Regions from separate parts of the Homo sapiens genome. Here region 2 is linked to region 1. Evidence: fine-mapped expression QTL. Tissue or cell type: whole blood. Region 1 holds a variant in brackets; the other region holds the start of a gene. All regions are shown on one strand. Distances are from middle to middle.

Region 1 (8,106 bases):
CAACTACTTGAAAATGAGATGTTATGATTGGGGGAATGAAAGAGTTTAATTGTAAACCAGTCAACTTAGTCTTGCAAGTATTGGTTAAGAGCCGCTTAAACTGTTTTTTTTTTCTTCTTTCTTCTTCTTCTTAAAATAGACAGAGTATAGTTTGTTTACAAAAGAGAAATGGAAAATGTTCTCCCCTTTAGCACGGCGCAAATGTGAAGGGCCGCATGCCTCTGGAGTGAGTAAGGGCTTTGCCGGCTGACTCTTACTCAGGGGAGCTCACGTATACGAAGTTGTTCCTCTATGCAGCAGAGACACAGCCCACATGATTTCTGGAGGAGGAGTAACTTGGAAATTCCTTCATGAAGGAAGGAAAAAATGTGTTGGAGGCTGAGAAATAAATCACATGTTGCACTGTTTCTGCCTCTAGAGATCGCAGCACGGTCTCAACTTCCCGACCTCTAAGCAGGAACAGCAATCCCAACCTGACTGGGGACAAACACGATTCCAGGCTGCTCCTAGGTCCCCTGTAGGAAACCTAAAAAGATGGTGAGCTTCCCACCCTCGAAGCAGGGGCTCTCAGTTGGCCGTGCCTTGTCATTTTGGCAGGCCTATGGCCCTGGGGTTCCAAGGCTGGACCCCATCTCCCTCCCCAGCACTTCTCCCTCTCCTGGGCCAGTATCTGTCAAGCTCCTGCCCTGATCCCCCGCCAAAAGGCAGGAGAGCCAAGGATGCTCCCTGTGAACTAGACTGGTAGGAGACGCCGTGTCAGCTGACAAAGAGTCTTTGCTTGGCCAAACTTGAGTGGAGCTCCTGAGCCTCCTCCTAAGCCTGTGCTTCCTTATGAAATCCAGTGTTAGCAGAGAATCCTACTCGGTCAGTTTAGCAAACAACCCCCATCCGTGAGATCTGATCACCCTCCATATCTGATCGGGTTTCTCATTCTCTGCCATCCCCCACGTGATGTCCTCAGCAAGAATCCTGTTAGGTTGGGTTAGCCAGAATCCCCCTGACTGTGACATTTCCTCTTAGGAATTTTCCATCCACTGACCCCCCACACTCCTCCTTGGCTATCAATTCCTACTTGCCCATGCTGTATCTGAGTGGCACCCCATCTCTCTTCCTTCCCACGAGTCTCCGTTGCAGGGGTCACTTGAGCTAACTCAGTCCTGAATGAAGCCTTCCTGCCCATACTGTACCAGGTGTCACTGAATAATTCTTTCTCAACACGCCCATGGCAGCAGCTCGTATCACAGGAAACTATTGCTAAGGTAAAATCCCCGCAAAGGGCTGCGCCTCGGTTCACCCCTCCACTTGCACTTGCCCGCCCACCCTCACTCGGCCTCCGCATCGTCTCCCAAAACATTTCTCAGAATGTGCTTCCCCAGACGTCCCTCACCAGGGCGTCTGCAGATTCCCAGATCCCTGAGTCCGACTTTTTCCTTTCGGTAATTCTTAATACCCAGGAAGTCCGAGAAACAATGGTCTAGACAGTGACTCCCAATGGCTGTGGGAGTAAAGTGGAGGAGGTAGAGGGCTAGGGATAGGGAAGGCAGAAGGCAACGCGGGATCTGGGGAGAGGGGGGCTTGAGTGGTTTTGAAAACATTCAGCATGGGAATCCAGGCTCACGTTTGAGAACCACGCATCGAAGTCCAATTATTTAATAGAACAAACTGTAGCAGGCAAACTCCATGAAAACCTCCTAGGAAGGCCTAGTGACCTGCGCTCCCCCCAGGAACTTCCGCTCCTGACTCCAGGCCAGGACTGCCAGAGAACCTTGCGGCTCTTTTCCTGCTCATCGAAAGGGGGTGTGGCTTTTTAAAAGGTAGAAACACTGATCCTCAACCGTGATTCCCAAACCTGGCTGGCACAAGTCTCGCCTCTACTTTTAGCTCACTCCACGCCCTGGTTTTGGAATCACTGACATAGCCTGAAGGCTGTGGCAGGATTTGCACGATTTTCGTGGCCAGCATCTACTGTGCTCTTTTTCCCAGCCCCTCCCACCTCTGCAACTCTGGCCACTATGGTATCACTGTTACCTTTGCAGGTAACACCTGCAAAGGGCTGAGTGGAAGCCCAGGTCTCCTCACCAAAGCCCTCCGGGTCAGTGAGGCATTGAGGCCAGAGTCTGTGGCTGCGAGGAGCAGGCTAACTCCTCTGGCATGGAGGAGATGCTGAATATTATTTCTTGAAGAAATGGTCACCTGCTATTTTGTTATTTTCACCTGACCAATTCTGTGCCTGCCTGCCTGCCTGCCTGCTCTGATGGTTCAGTGGAGTTCCGATGCTCTGTCTCCAGTTAATTCCCTCAACCGTTAGAATCAAAGTAGTAGTTTTTTCATCCATCCATTTATTCACTCTTTCATGAACTTGAACCTTGTAAGATAAGGAGGGACAGCTTTGCCTGATGACTAGGAACGTGGAGGCAGGCAGGCCTGACTAATTCAGACTCAGGCTGCGTACAGGTTAACTTCTCCGAGCTTCAGTTTCCTCATCTATAAAATGGGGATAATGACAGCTCCTACTTAATGGTATTGTTGCAGGGATTAAAAGGATGATATGGCAAGTGCTTAACAGTCACCTTGTATTATTATTTCAGACACTATGCTAGAAAAAGAGATGTATAAAAAGCATATGAAGACAGGGCTCCTGGCTAGTACTTGGCAGTGAAAGCTGGTCTGAATCAGCAGGGGGCTGGGCAGGTGGGCATGAATGAATAGATAAGAACCCTTTGTAACTACCCACATCCATTTCTATGTAATCACTATGTAAAGTTCTTAAAACCAGTTCTTTATCTTACCTACATTAAATAGCCCTTCCCCACCCTTAATACTACATATACCACAAATCCTTTTGGGAAACAATTTTTCTTTTCAGAGTTAGACCAGAGGTAAATGTCAGCTGCAGCTGAATTCTCATAAAATCCAATTTAGTGGAATCTGAATGAAGTCTGTAAACTTCATAACCCATTATAAAAGATTCCCCAGGCTGGGTGCAGTGGCTCATGCCTGTAATCCCAGCACTTTGTGAGGCCGAGGCAGGTGGATCACGAGGTCAAGAGATCAAGACCATCCTGGCCAATATGGTGAAACCCCATTTCTACTAAAAATAAAAAAATTAGTCGGGCGTGGTGGCGGGCGCCTGTAGTCCTAGCTACTCGGGAGGCTGGGGCAGAAGAATCACTTGAACCCGGGAGGCAGAGGTTGCAGTGAGCCGGGATTGTGCCACTGCACTCCAGCCTGTCGACAGAGCAAGACTCCGTCTCGAAAAAAAAAACCCCCAAAACAAACCCTTATACAACAACCCTATCTAAACCAGCACCCACTCAGACCTCACCCTGCTGTTTTCTCTCCTTTACCTTCCTTTATTTTCTTCGTATCACTTATCACCATCTGTTATGTCATATGTGTATTTATCTGTTCCCTCTACTCAGATGTTAGCTCCATAAAAGGTATGGAGTACCCCCAGTGTCTAGAGCTGTGTCTGACACATAGTAGGCATTAGTAAATATTTGTGGCATGAATAAATTAGCTGATACATCATTGAAGATAGTCCAATGACCTTGCAAATTATTTACAGGTTGTAAATCTTCCTGTCCTAAGAGATCACCCGCCAAAGAGCCATCAGAAGATAATTACAGCTCTTGCCTTTATGAGATGCCTTTCTCTTTCAGCCTCTCTGGGTATCTTTCTCCAGGGCTGTGGCCCAATCTTATTTAATCACAAGATCTTAACAGATACCAACAGGATTGCAGCAGCTACTTAATCTGCCTTCCAAAAAGTGCAGTTCAGCCTCTCCCCGTATAGAGACAGCCAGCCCAAACCAGCTCAGATCATTTCAGTGTCATTGCTCTAATACAGAACTAAAAAGAAATCAGAACTGAGAGTTCTGCCCCACAGTAACATCTGCTTCTAGTTTAGATTTTTGTACAGCCTGAGAAGCTACTCCAGTGAGAAGAACCTGTTTCAATCCATGGGCTATCCTATCCTTCCTCACCAACCAACCCCAGGAGAAGAAAGACCACCTTCTCCCACTGTCACATTTACATGGGGCAAGGTCAGAAATGAGCTTTATAACTAGGAGAAATAAAAGTAATAAAAGCTTAAAGACAAGGTATTTCATATACTAGGGAATGAAAAACGTCTTATAAGCAATACCACACTTTGCCCTACCAAATTAATTTTATTCCAAACGCAGTCTTTTGTTTTTTCTAATTTAAAACAAGCTAGGGAGTTAGTACATTTCTTTTTTTTTTTGGAGACGGAGTCTCACGCCGTTGCCCAGGCTGGAGTGCAGTGGTGCAATCTCAGCTCATTGCAAGCTCCACCTCTTGAATTCAAGCGATTCTCCTGCCTCAGTCTCTGGAGTAGCTGGGATTACAGGTGCCCGCCACCATGCCTGGCTAATTTTTGTATCTTTTTTTTTTTTTTTTTTTTGAGACAGAGTCTCACTCTGTCACCCAGGCCGGAGTGCAATGGCACGGTCTCGGCTCACTGCAACCTCTGCCTTCTGCATTCAAGCGATTCTCCTACCTCAGCCTCCCGAGTAGCTGGGATTACAGGCGCTTGCCACCACACGCAGCTAATATTTGTATTTTTAGTAGAGACGGGGGTTTGCCCATGTTGGCCAGGCTGGTCTCGAACTCCTGACCTCGTGATCCACCTGCCTC[G/A]GCCTCCCAAAGTGCTAGAATTACAGGCGTGAGTCACCGTGCCCGGCCGAGAGTTAGTACATTTCACAACGTAAGCTAGGTCTTTTCCTTTTTTTATTTAATTCTATATCCTTTTCCTTTAATTCTATATTCCCCCGAACAACCTCTCACTTTCAAGTTTTAGCACCCTGGCCCTCAACCTGAACACACACACACACACACACACACACACACACACACACACACACAGAATAAACCTTGGAAAGTCTGGGCTCTGTGTAAGAGGATTTTAACATACCTATGTAAAATCCACATGCTTCCACTTAAAGAGCTGAGTGACCTTTTACAATTTAATGAACCTCTTTCAGCCACATTTTTCTCATCTGTGAGTTGAAGATCAGACTGTCTGACGGACTCATAGTTGATATAAGGATTAAATGCGATTGTAACTGAAACAGTTTTAACATCGTCCCTGACACACAGTAAACCTAGAAGAAAAGAATTAGCTATTTTGTTGTTCATCAGGAAATTGAAGTAATTTTTTCTTAATTATATCAAATTTGCCCTATATCTACTATTTATTGAGGAAGTATCACAGTCCCCATTATAAAGATTAAGAAATTTGCCAAGAGTCACCCAACCAACAAGAAGCAAAACCAAAGTTCTGTCTAATCTCATGATTGTACAGCTGGCCACATGCCCACACCTCTTACACAAGAACTGGAATACATTTCCTTCTAGGTATATTGTCAGGCCTTTTTGTTATCTCCTTCCTACAATACGGCAAAACAGATGCCTTGCTTGAGATTTATATTCAGAAACTGTTTCTAACTTTGTTCTGCATTGGTGTGGAAGTATATATAATGGTGGTTTTGCATGCACAAGTACATGTATTTGGAGGGCAGAAAGAATACTAGACATGCAAATTCTGAGACAGATAATTATGGTCACTTTATTTCAGACATTGTAATTGTCATCTCTAGCAGTCCAAGTTAATTTTTTTAAATTATCTTCCATGTCCCTACTAGCATGCTCAAGCAATTCTCCACCTTCTTGAATCTATAGAATAGAATTCCAACACTCAGCGGGGCACGGTGGCTTATGCCTGTAATCCCAGTACTTTGGGAGGCCGAGGGGGGCGGGTCACATGAGGCCAGGAGTTCGAGACCAGCCTGGCCAAAATGGTGAAACCCCGTCTCTGGTAAAAAAAATACATAAATTAGCTGGGCATGGTGGCGTGTGCCTGTAATTCCAGCTACTCCAGAGGCTGAGGTAGGAGAATCACTTGAACCCGGAGGCGGAGGTTGCAGTAAGCTGAGATCGTGCCACTGCACTCCAGCATGGGCAACAGAGTGAGACTCTGTCTCACAAAAAATTTTTTTTAAAGAATTATAATACTTGTTTTACTGTCCATGTCTACTGATTGTGTGCCATTTCTGGGTCAGTTTCTATTGATTGTTTTCTACCTACATTAGGGAGGCAAAATCCTTCCCTATGAATTACAAGGTGTTTCCCCCGGTTGGCGGGAACATAAACTCTTTCTAGTCCTGCCTCAAGCAGTTTCCTCACTCAGTTCTCAGCTGAAGATTCAAGGGGAATTCTCTGCAAGTCTCTGAAGTGCTCTCTCTGTCTCTCCTCTCTCTTCTCTCCTCTTTCTTCTCTCTCTCTCTCTCTCTCTCTGTGTGTGTGTGTGTGTGTGTGTGTGTGTCTGTGTTTCTCTCCTCTTGGTCCACTAGTAACCTTGGCATCTTTAGACTAACCTTGGCATCTCTAGACTCCCACCTGCACCTCTCCAACTCTGGGAGACAACAAGGATCCCTTTTCTTGCATTGCAGCATGGAAATGAGTCTCTCTAGGCATTAAGCTGGGAACTCTCAGGGCTCACCTCATTTATCTCCCATCTCTTAGAGATCACTGTTCTGTGCCAGCAAAGTCCAACATCTGAAAACTACTGTTGCATGTATTTTGTTTTAGTTGTGTCAGGTGGGAGGGTAAATCTAATCCCTTAGCATAACGGAACTACAGTCAATTCCAAACTACAGTCAATTTAAGGATGAGAATTCTGAGGCCTGGAGAGGGTAAGTAACTTGCCCAGGTCACCCACTAGTAATCAGTAGAGCTGGGTCTCTAATCGGCTTCTGCCTGGCTCCAGAATCCCAACTTTCAAATACCATGCTCTCCTGCCTTCCTGTGAGCTCAGCCTTGAGTTCCACATCTCTCTACAAAATGGCATGAGCTTTGTGAGAGAGGTTTGTTTCTCTTGTGTTCTGACCTTTGTATCCTGACCCCTTTGCAGCTTAAACCCAAGTTGGAACTAGGGTGCTGTTTCAGAGAGCCGAGGTGGACAGATTCCACACTGGTGGCCCATTACCAGTGAGCTGACAGGACAGCTGCAAGGTGCTTCTTAAATGGTAAATGTCATCCACGTAGGAGCATCATAAACTCACTTGTTCACTCATTCATCCAACAAACGTTTATTTAGAGCCTACTATATGCCAGGCACTGTGCTAAGTGCTGGTCTTACGGCATTGAACAAGAGTGACATGGAGTTTACTATCCAGTAGAGAGAGAACAAATGAATAAGTAAATAGAAAAGAACATTTCAGATGGTGGTGAATGCTGAGCTACATATAGCAGGTGTGTGGACCAGCACATACCCTGAGTACTTGTCTAAAACACAATTCTAGCATGTATTTGCTCACACAGACTCCTTTTCCCATTCTTACACTCACATGAGCTCCCTAATAAGAAGGGCTTTGGAAGAATAAAACAGAGTAATAAGATAAAGAGTGACAGGGAGGGGCTGCTCTAGGCTGGATGATCAGACATGGTGAGGCCCAATGACAAGATTTTACATCTATTGCAGTTTGAGGGAAGGAGCATTCCACGCAAAGGGAACAGCAAATGCAAAAACTCTACGCAGTACCTCTTTTTTCTCCTGGGCATGTGTGTCCACGTGTGCATACACACAGACACACAAATCTGAAAACTTGTCAATATCTTTTATTTCTACATGTACAGGTTCTTGAAGATGGCACTTTTAGGAACTCAAGGGTAGGGCCAGGATGCCAACAGATCAGGGTCCCAGCCTCCACCCCTCTGAGGCTCAAGTCTACTCTCTACTTCTCAAGGTCACTGTGAAGAGCAAATGAGATGAGATATAGTCTCTTCATATATCTGGTCCATTGCAGAATATAGGCATAAGTGACTTCCTACTCAACAGTATAAAAATGCTTAAAATTTTTACCTAGGGTGGAGCTTATAAAAGGTAGCAATACACTGATATTGAGAATTAAATTTTTTTTTGTCAAAATTAGGAAGAAAAATCACTTCTATTTCAGCAGAGATAATTGATCATTCTACCTACATTTTGTTTACTATAGGTAGTCAGAGGCTTTCAGTATAACATAAAAGTCAAGTGTACAGGCCTGGATATAGATGAGCTGACTCTAACACACACCTGCTGTGT
Region 2 (8,097 bases), 42 kb after region 1:
GTTCAGCTACTCAGGAGGCTGAGGTGGGAGGATCGCTTGAGCCCAGGAGTTCGAGACCATGATCACACCACTGACTGCACTCTTCCCTCCTGGATGGCAGGGTGAAACAGTCTCAAAAAAAAAAAAAAAAAAGAAAGAAAGAAAGAAAGGGTTTGAACACGAAAAACTGAGGTCAACTGTAAACCAGTTGGTTGTCAGTACAGCACAATCCCAAGTACAGTGTAGCTATAGCCTAATAGGGCCTCACAGTGTCTATGCGAGCTTCACCATTAACAATCACTTCCCCTGGCCATTCTTCACCGTCTTATAGTTTGAGAAGAGCTGCTTACTGCCCTGACTTTGTTTATTTACCCAAGAGGCAAAATGTTTACATATTTCTGTTAACACAGGGACTTTCTTTGATGCCGCCTTGATCTTCTGGTATGGCTTTTTCCTTTTTTTTTTTTTGAGATGGAGTCTCGTTCTATCTCCCAGGCTGGAGTGCAGTGGTGCGATCTCTGCTCACTGGAACCTCCGCCTCCCAGGCTCAAGTGATTCTCCTGCCTCAGCCTCCTGAGTAGCTGGGACTACAGGCATGGTAGGGCTTTTTCCAGTTTACCATACCCTGCCCCACTCCACACTATGAAGTGTGTCTGCCTTTGTTCCATGTTCCCTCTGATGGACAGTATTTTGCTATAAGTATCCTCAGTTCAGTCAGAACTTAATGTTACTTAATTTTACGCAGTGCTCAAAATTGGGAACACACCTGTAAAGGGTTTGCCATCACCAGGATTTTAAACCACCGACATAGACTGAAAGCAAGAAGAGTGCTGTGTTTGTTGCTATATCCCCTCCAGCACCTAAGGCAATGCATTTCACATCTTGCTGAGAGCAGCTAACTCAATACCTGGAACTAGAAAATTAGAATCTAAAAGACGGAAGGCATCTAAAGACCAGTTCCCATCATGCCACAGCTGAGAAATTGGAGACCCAGGTGGTTAAATCAGATATTGAGTTAATGTCAGCTGGAATGCAGATGTTCCTACTCTGAGTTGAGTGCCCTTTCCTCTGTCAGGTTGCTTGTTAGCTAAATGAATGAATGACTTTACCACTCGATTTGTATGAAAAAAGGAGGCCAGAAAAGAGACTAAAGTTAAATGTGTAATTGTTTGTATAGACTATATTTGCCAACTTAACTGAAGTTTTCCACTTTCAATTGATTGTTTGCATTCATTGACTTAGATATATTTTTCATCATTTAAAATGTTTCATCAATGCATACAAACTCCAGACAAATAACAAGTCAGATTTCAATATAGTATTAACTCCAATTCCTCTATAATCTATAATACTTAAATAATTACATGATCGGACTGATCCAAATATATTTTAATGTCTTTATATGTCAATGATGAAGGATGTAAAATCTTCATATTATGTCTCTATTATGTAACTGCTTCAAGAAAACAAAAAATTAATAAAACCTAACACATGTAAATAAACTCTGACATAACGTGAGTCCATGATATTCACTAGCCAGATTTTCAAACCTCATTGTCCTTTAAGAGCCCAATTTTAAGCTGGGCGTGGTAGTTTACGCCTGTAATCCCAACACTTTGGGAAGCTGAGATGGGAAGAAAGTTTGAGCAAGGGAATTATAACCAGCCTGGGCAACATAGCAAGACCCAGTCTTATTCAAAAAAATTTTTTTAAATTTTTTTTAAATCCAATTTTTGCCCTTTAGATTTTTTTTTTAACCAACCAACAATTTGCCAGCTTTTTTTTTTTTTTTTTTTTTTTTTTGAGACGGAGTCTCACTCTGTTGCCCAGGTTGGAGTGCAGTAGCATGATCTCGGCTCACTGCAACCTCCTCCTCCTGGGTTGAAGCAATCCTCCTGCCTCAGCCTCCCGAGTAGCTGGGATTATAGGCATGTGCCACCATGCCCGGCTAATTTTTGTATTTTTAGTAGAGATGGGGTTTTGCCATGTTGGCCTGGCTGGTCTCGAACTCCTGCCCTCATGTGATCCACCCACCTCAGCCTCCCAAAGTTCTGGGATTACAGGCAGAAGTCACCACACCCAGCCAGCCAGCTTTGAGTTTCATTTCTTTCATTTTCTTGCTCATCCTCAGAGAGAGAGGTTTAAGAAGAGAAATAAAGGGGAAAAACGGGAAACAGAAAGGCGAAAGGTATAGATGCCTCAGGAACTGACAGGGAGTAGCAGTCAGGCTCCTGGAAGAAACGAGAAATGTAGCAAGGCATGGTCAGGAAACACATGTCTATCCATGCTCCCACTCTCTCTGCCTTTCCCTCTCTTTCCCATCCCTCTTGCCAAGAAGTGAGTTGGCAGTCTTACCAATGACAAACAAAATAGATAAAGCCTCCACACTGAGATTTAGAAACCCCACTTTAGCCAAAACTAAGTCACTTACATCAAATTGTACCATGACACCAAGCATTCCTGTCCCCTCCCCTGCAATGGCAATCAAGTGTCATAGAAAAATAGCCTTTTAAAATTACCATGAGCCTTTTATTTTTATTTATTTTTACACCCAGGCTGGAGTGCAGTGGCGTGATCACGGCTCACTGTAGCCTCAAACTCCTGGGCTCAAGCAATCCTCCTGCCTTGGCCTCCCAAAGTTGGCTCAGGGTTGAGGAGCCACTGTGCTCAGCCAACCATGAGGTTTTTAGAGATGATCTTGTCTAAACCCTTCTCGCCTGTTTTGCAGAAAAGAAAATTGAGATCCCAGAGAAATGAAGTAACTTGCCCAAGGTCATTCAGCAGGCAAGATAGAACTAGATCCCCAAATTGCAAACTAGCTGTCCAGAGTTCTTTCCTCAATGAGCAATTTAAAAGCTACAGAATGTACAAAAAAAGCTCCCCAACAGTTTAGATATAAAAACAATTACAAAGGCACAAAAGGGCAGGAAAACTCAATAAAACTATGAACTTCACCCATCCCACCTCCCAGAAACCCAGTGACAATCAAAGCAGCGTCAGGCTGGTTCAAGGAGTAATGGTGTCTCCAACAATTTAATTGCTCTTCTTCCTCCTTTACCCATTTCTCACAGGCAGAGAAAAAATGCATCTAAGACTACTGAAACTTACTTTGAACCAATACAGATGTTTGTTGATACCTGAAATTTAGTGATTCGCAAATACGTTTTCTGCCAAGAGCTTACAGAAATCACACTCTTAGAGCTAAAACATCAGGTCATTCCATGAGTCTCAAGCCCTGGAGAAAATTAAATGCCTTCCCCAGAAACGGGTCCTCTCCCCTGTCCTGCGCAGGTAACAAACGCTGCTGGAGAGACTTGGCTTCATCAGCTGTCTAAATGCAGACTTTTCAAGAAGGTGACTCAAGAAACTAACATTCCAAAACAGGACTTCAGAAAAAGAAGAAAACTTTTTCTTACCCTTAAAAATGACAGAAACAATAGGATCCGGCTTGCCAAATTTCGTTTTAGGGATATTGCTGGCAGATTCCACAATCACTCGCAGCATGGTTCTTAGCTGGTAGAAAGCAAGTTTCAGCAAACGAAGTGGAGACTAGGGCGCTGGAGCTCCGGGTCGCACCGCCCTGGGAGAGAAGTTCTCTCCCAGTGAAGGGAGGATTTCTCCCAGGGCAAGGAAGGGGAAAAGGCAAAATGGGTGGACCTCTGGCGGATTTTACTGAAGGCAACGTGTAAACTGATACCGAACTCCCCGCGTCTACGCAGTGCCGCAGGCACAGACTTATGAATTCGGGAAATGTGGAAGTGAAAAGGACAAACCCTAAACTAAAAATAATTCCGTGCGACAAATGAAACCAACATGAATTTGGAGCTAAGAAATACGGGTAGGTCAGGAAACCACTAAAATGTTGCTGCCTTTTAGCAATGGTTCGTGAAACTGAATTAATTGATTTTTCCGTCACTGCTTTCATTCTTTTCTGAGTTTCAAGGAGTTTTAAAACTTTAGTCATTATTTGCTTTTGACTTTTCGCTGTTACTTCTCACGCCATTGAACACACCCACTCAGTAACCCTATGTTCAGCTTTTTTAAAGCAGCTAAAGGGTGCCTCTTACTGGACGGCAAACGAATGACAGCGTTTATTTCAAGTAAACGCGATCCAGGCATGGGATATATAAATAATTACATATATGTATAAATAATTATATATATATATATATATATATATATATATATATATATATATATATATATATATATATAAAGGACTGAACATAGAATTTCTTCAAAACCCCTTCAGAGGTGAGAGCTGGGCGCCTAAGTTTTCCCGGCTCTTCAAATGCTGCCAATTGCCTTCAGTGAAAATGGAGAAGTGACTCCCCACTGTTTCTGGACCTACAGCTGCCCATGGTGTCTTTCTGTCCCAGAGGGTGCATGAAGACAGTGCAGCTTGGCTGAGATCACAAGAGGCGGCCTGGGGTTAGTCAGCCAGATCTGAGTGTGAGACTCTGCCTCACCACCCTGAGCTACGTCATCTTAGCAAGTTTCTTTTCTTTTCTTTTCTTTTCTTTTTTTTTTTTGACGGAGTCTCGCTCTGTCACCAGGCTGGAGTGCAGTGTAGCGATCTTGGCTCACTGCAACCTCTGCCTCCCGGGTTCAAGCGATTCTCCTGCCTCAGTCTCCCGAGTAGCTGGGACTACAGGCGTGCGCCACCACACGCAGCTAATTTTTTTTTTTTTTGTATTTTTAGTAGAGACGGGGTTTCACCATGCTGGCAAGGATGGTCTCGATCTCTTGACCTTGTGATCCGCCCGCCTCGGCCTCCGTGGCTTGAGCTTTACTGGCTTGAGCTTTACTGGCTTGAGCCACCGTGCTGGCGAGCAAGTTTCTTAACCCCTCTCTTCCTCAGTTTCCTCATCTATGAACTGGGGATAAAGGCTGTTATAAGATAAAGGTCATAGCATAGGAGCTGGCACAAAGCACACAGTAATTTGCACATGTAAGAAGTTCATGCTTATTTGTGGTCTCACAGCGTTTCTGTTAGTGCAGGCTGACTTTAAATCAGGATCTCGTTATATTTCAGAAGAAAAGGCTAAAACTTGGGATGAAGAAACATTGGGCTTCTTTTTGCTTTAGAACACACATCAAGCAGACCCACCTGTAAATAAACATTTCAAGTACATTGAATAAGCATGACTTAACCTACAAGAATTCTTCTGTCTCCACGAGTTTCTCCAAGGCTTAAAGCAAAGAACCAATTACCCAGTGCTGTGTTCATTATTGTATTTAGTGGACATGTTGGCAGTTTTAGTGGAATATAGAGATTATTACTTTTATTTTATCTGGCTGCTTTCTATTTGCCATTTTTACTGTGAAATATATTTACAGAAAAATGCATACTACATAAACGTGACAGTTTAACAAGCATCCAGGTCAAGACAGAACATTGCCAGTCCTCCAGAAGCCCCTGGAATACCCCATATATCATATCCACCTCCTTCTCCCAGAGGTAACCACTCTCCTGATTTTTTTTTCTTTTTTTAGATGGAGTTTCACTCTTGTTGCCCAGGCTGGATTGAAGTGGGGTGATCGGCTCACTGCCACCTCCACCTCCCGGGTTCAAGCAATTCTCCTGCCTCAGCCTCCCAGGTAGCTGGGATTACAGGCGTGCACTACCACACCCGGCTAATTTTGTATTTTTAGTAGAGACAGGGTTTCACCGTGTTGGCCAGGCTGGTCTCAAACTCCTGACCTCAGGTGATCCATCCACCTCGGCCTCCCAAAGTGCTGGGATTACAGGCATGAGCCACCATGCCTGGCCCACTCTCCTGATTTTTATGGTAATGATTTCCTTGCTTTTCTTTGTAGTTTTTACCGAAAACAACAACAACAAAACAGTTTAGGTTTGCTTGCTCATGACCTTTGTTTGGTGATATAAATTCTTTTGTATGTTATGAACTTTACATACAACACATATATTCATATATATAGGTACACACATACATGTGTTCATACTTTGTGAATTCTTTGCTGTATTATGACTTTATAGAAATGGACTCATACAGAATGGATTCTTTCGTGTTTGACTTCTTTTTTCTCAGTATTATATTGTGAAATTCATTCATGTAGCTCTACTTCCTTCACTCTTGTTGCTATATGGCATTTCATTGTATGAGTTTCTGACATTTTATTTATTTATTTATTTTGAGACAGAGTCTTGCTCTGTAGCCCAGGCTGGAGTGCAGTGGTGCGATCTCGTTTCACTGCAACCTCTGCCTCCCGGGTTCAAGCAATTCTCCTGCCTCAGCCTCCTGAGTAGCTGGGATTACAGGTGCACACCACCACGCCCGGCTAATTTTTGTATCTTTAGTAGAGATGGGGTGTCACCATGTTGGCCAGGATGTTCTCGAACTCTTTACCTCGTGATCCGCCTGCCTCAGCCTCCCAAAGTGCTGGGATTACAGGCATGAGCCACTGCGCCTGGCCTCCAGATTTGATTAATTCATTCTACTACTGCCAGACATTTGGACAGTTCAGGGAATGGGGCTATTACAAACAGTGCTGTTCTGAACAGTCCAAGACTGTTCTGGCACAAATGTGCATGAGTCTATTTAGAGTCTAATCTATGGGTGGAATTGCTTGCTGGGCCAGAGAATGTATGCATTTCTTCACCTTTACAAGGTAATTCCAAATTATATTCCACAATGGTACTCTTGCCAGCAGTGTATGAGACTTCCTGTTGTTCTAAATTTTTGTCATACTTAACCAATGTTAGATTTTTTACATTTGCCCTTCTGGTGAGCATATAATAGCATCTCACTGGAGTTTTAATTTGCCTTTTACCTATTCATGTGGGAGAAAAAGACAAATGACTTCCAACCTTACATAATACATAATCAATTACAGGTGGAGTATAAATCTAAATAAGCAAGATAAAACATGTTTCAGCCCAGACACAGTGGTTCATACCTGTAATCTCAACACTTTGGGGAGGCTGAGGTGAGTCTGAGACCAGCCTGGGCAACATAGTGAGACCCTGCCTCTAAAAAAAATTTTTTAAATTAATCGAGTGTGGTGGCATGCACCTGTGGTCCCAGCTACTTGAAAGGCTGAGGTGGGACAACCACTTGAGCCTGGGAAGTCCTGGTGGCAGTGAGCCATGATTGTGCCACTATACTCCAACCTGGGTAACAGAGTGAGACCCTGTCTCTAAAAAAAAAAAAAAAAAAATCTAACCAGGTGGTGGCAGCAGCTCACACCTGTAGTCCCAGCTACTTGGGAAGCTGAGGCAAGAGGATCACTTGAGGCCAGAAATAGAAATCCAGCCTAGACAACATGGCAAGACCTCCTCTCTAAAACAAATAAGTAAAGAAAAAAATCAAACAACAAAAAAAGCCATAGAAGAATATCTATATGACCCCAGGATAGGAAAGGATTTCTTAATATGAAAAAATGTACAAATCATAAAGGAAATATTGATAAATTCAATTATATTAAAATCACAACCTACAAAGGACTAGTATTCAGAGTACATAAACAGCTCCAGCAAATTAGTAAGACAAACACATAGAACTCAATGGAAAAATAGGTAAAAGATTTGAATAGGCACTTCATAAATTAGGAAATGTAAATATGAAAAGGTACTCAACCTCATTGGTAATTAGAAAAGTGCAAATTAAAACTCCAATGAGTTATTATTATATACTCACCAGATGGGAAAATATGTAAAAATCTAACATTGCCAAGCTTGACAAGAATGTGGAACAACGGGAAGTCTCATACACCGCTGGTGAGAGTGTAATCAGCAGTAAATTCTCATGGATTTTCTACCATTACAATTATAGAATCTGCAAATAACGCCTGGGGTGTTTCTTCCTTTTCAATCTTTGTGCTTACTTTATTTTCCCATTTATTTCTATGTTGATTAGACCTTTCATTATAATATTGACTAGGGGTGGTAATAACAGACATCCTTATCTTTTTCTGTATTTCAAAGGGAAAGATTTCCATACTTCACCATAAAGTATGATGTTTGCTGTAGGTTTCTCATAATTAGCCCTTTTAAGATTAAAGGAGTTCTCTTTATTCCTAGGTTGCTAAAACTTTGAGGTTTTTTTTTTTGGTTTTTTTTTTTTTTTTTTTGAGATGGAGTCTTGTTATGTCCTT

Evidence for each region. PIP is the estimated chance that this variant, and not a neighbour inherited with it, causes the effect.
Region 2: MYOF starts here. The variant in region 1 is fine-mapped to the expression of MYOF in whole blood (TOPMed, PIP above 0.99).

The regions. Positions count from the first base shown.
Region 1 is chr10:93,437,157-93,445,262 of GRCh38, forward strand. All of the region lies in intron 3 of MYOF (myoferlin), which reads right to left. Among named protein-coding and RNA genes, the nearest start is that of MYOF, 41 kb to the right of the region's middle. RefSeq lists enhancers at 1-947, 96-390. The variant G/A (reference allele first, on the strand shown) is at 4,659.
Region 2 is chr10:93,478,712-93,486,808 of GRCh38, forward strand. It overlaps MYOF (myoferlin), which reads right to left and starts at 3,623. Exons shown (of 54, transcript NM_013451.4): 1 at 3,396-3,623. The coding sequence starts at 3,483.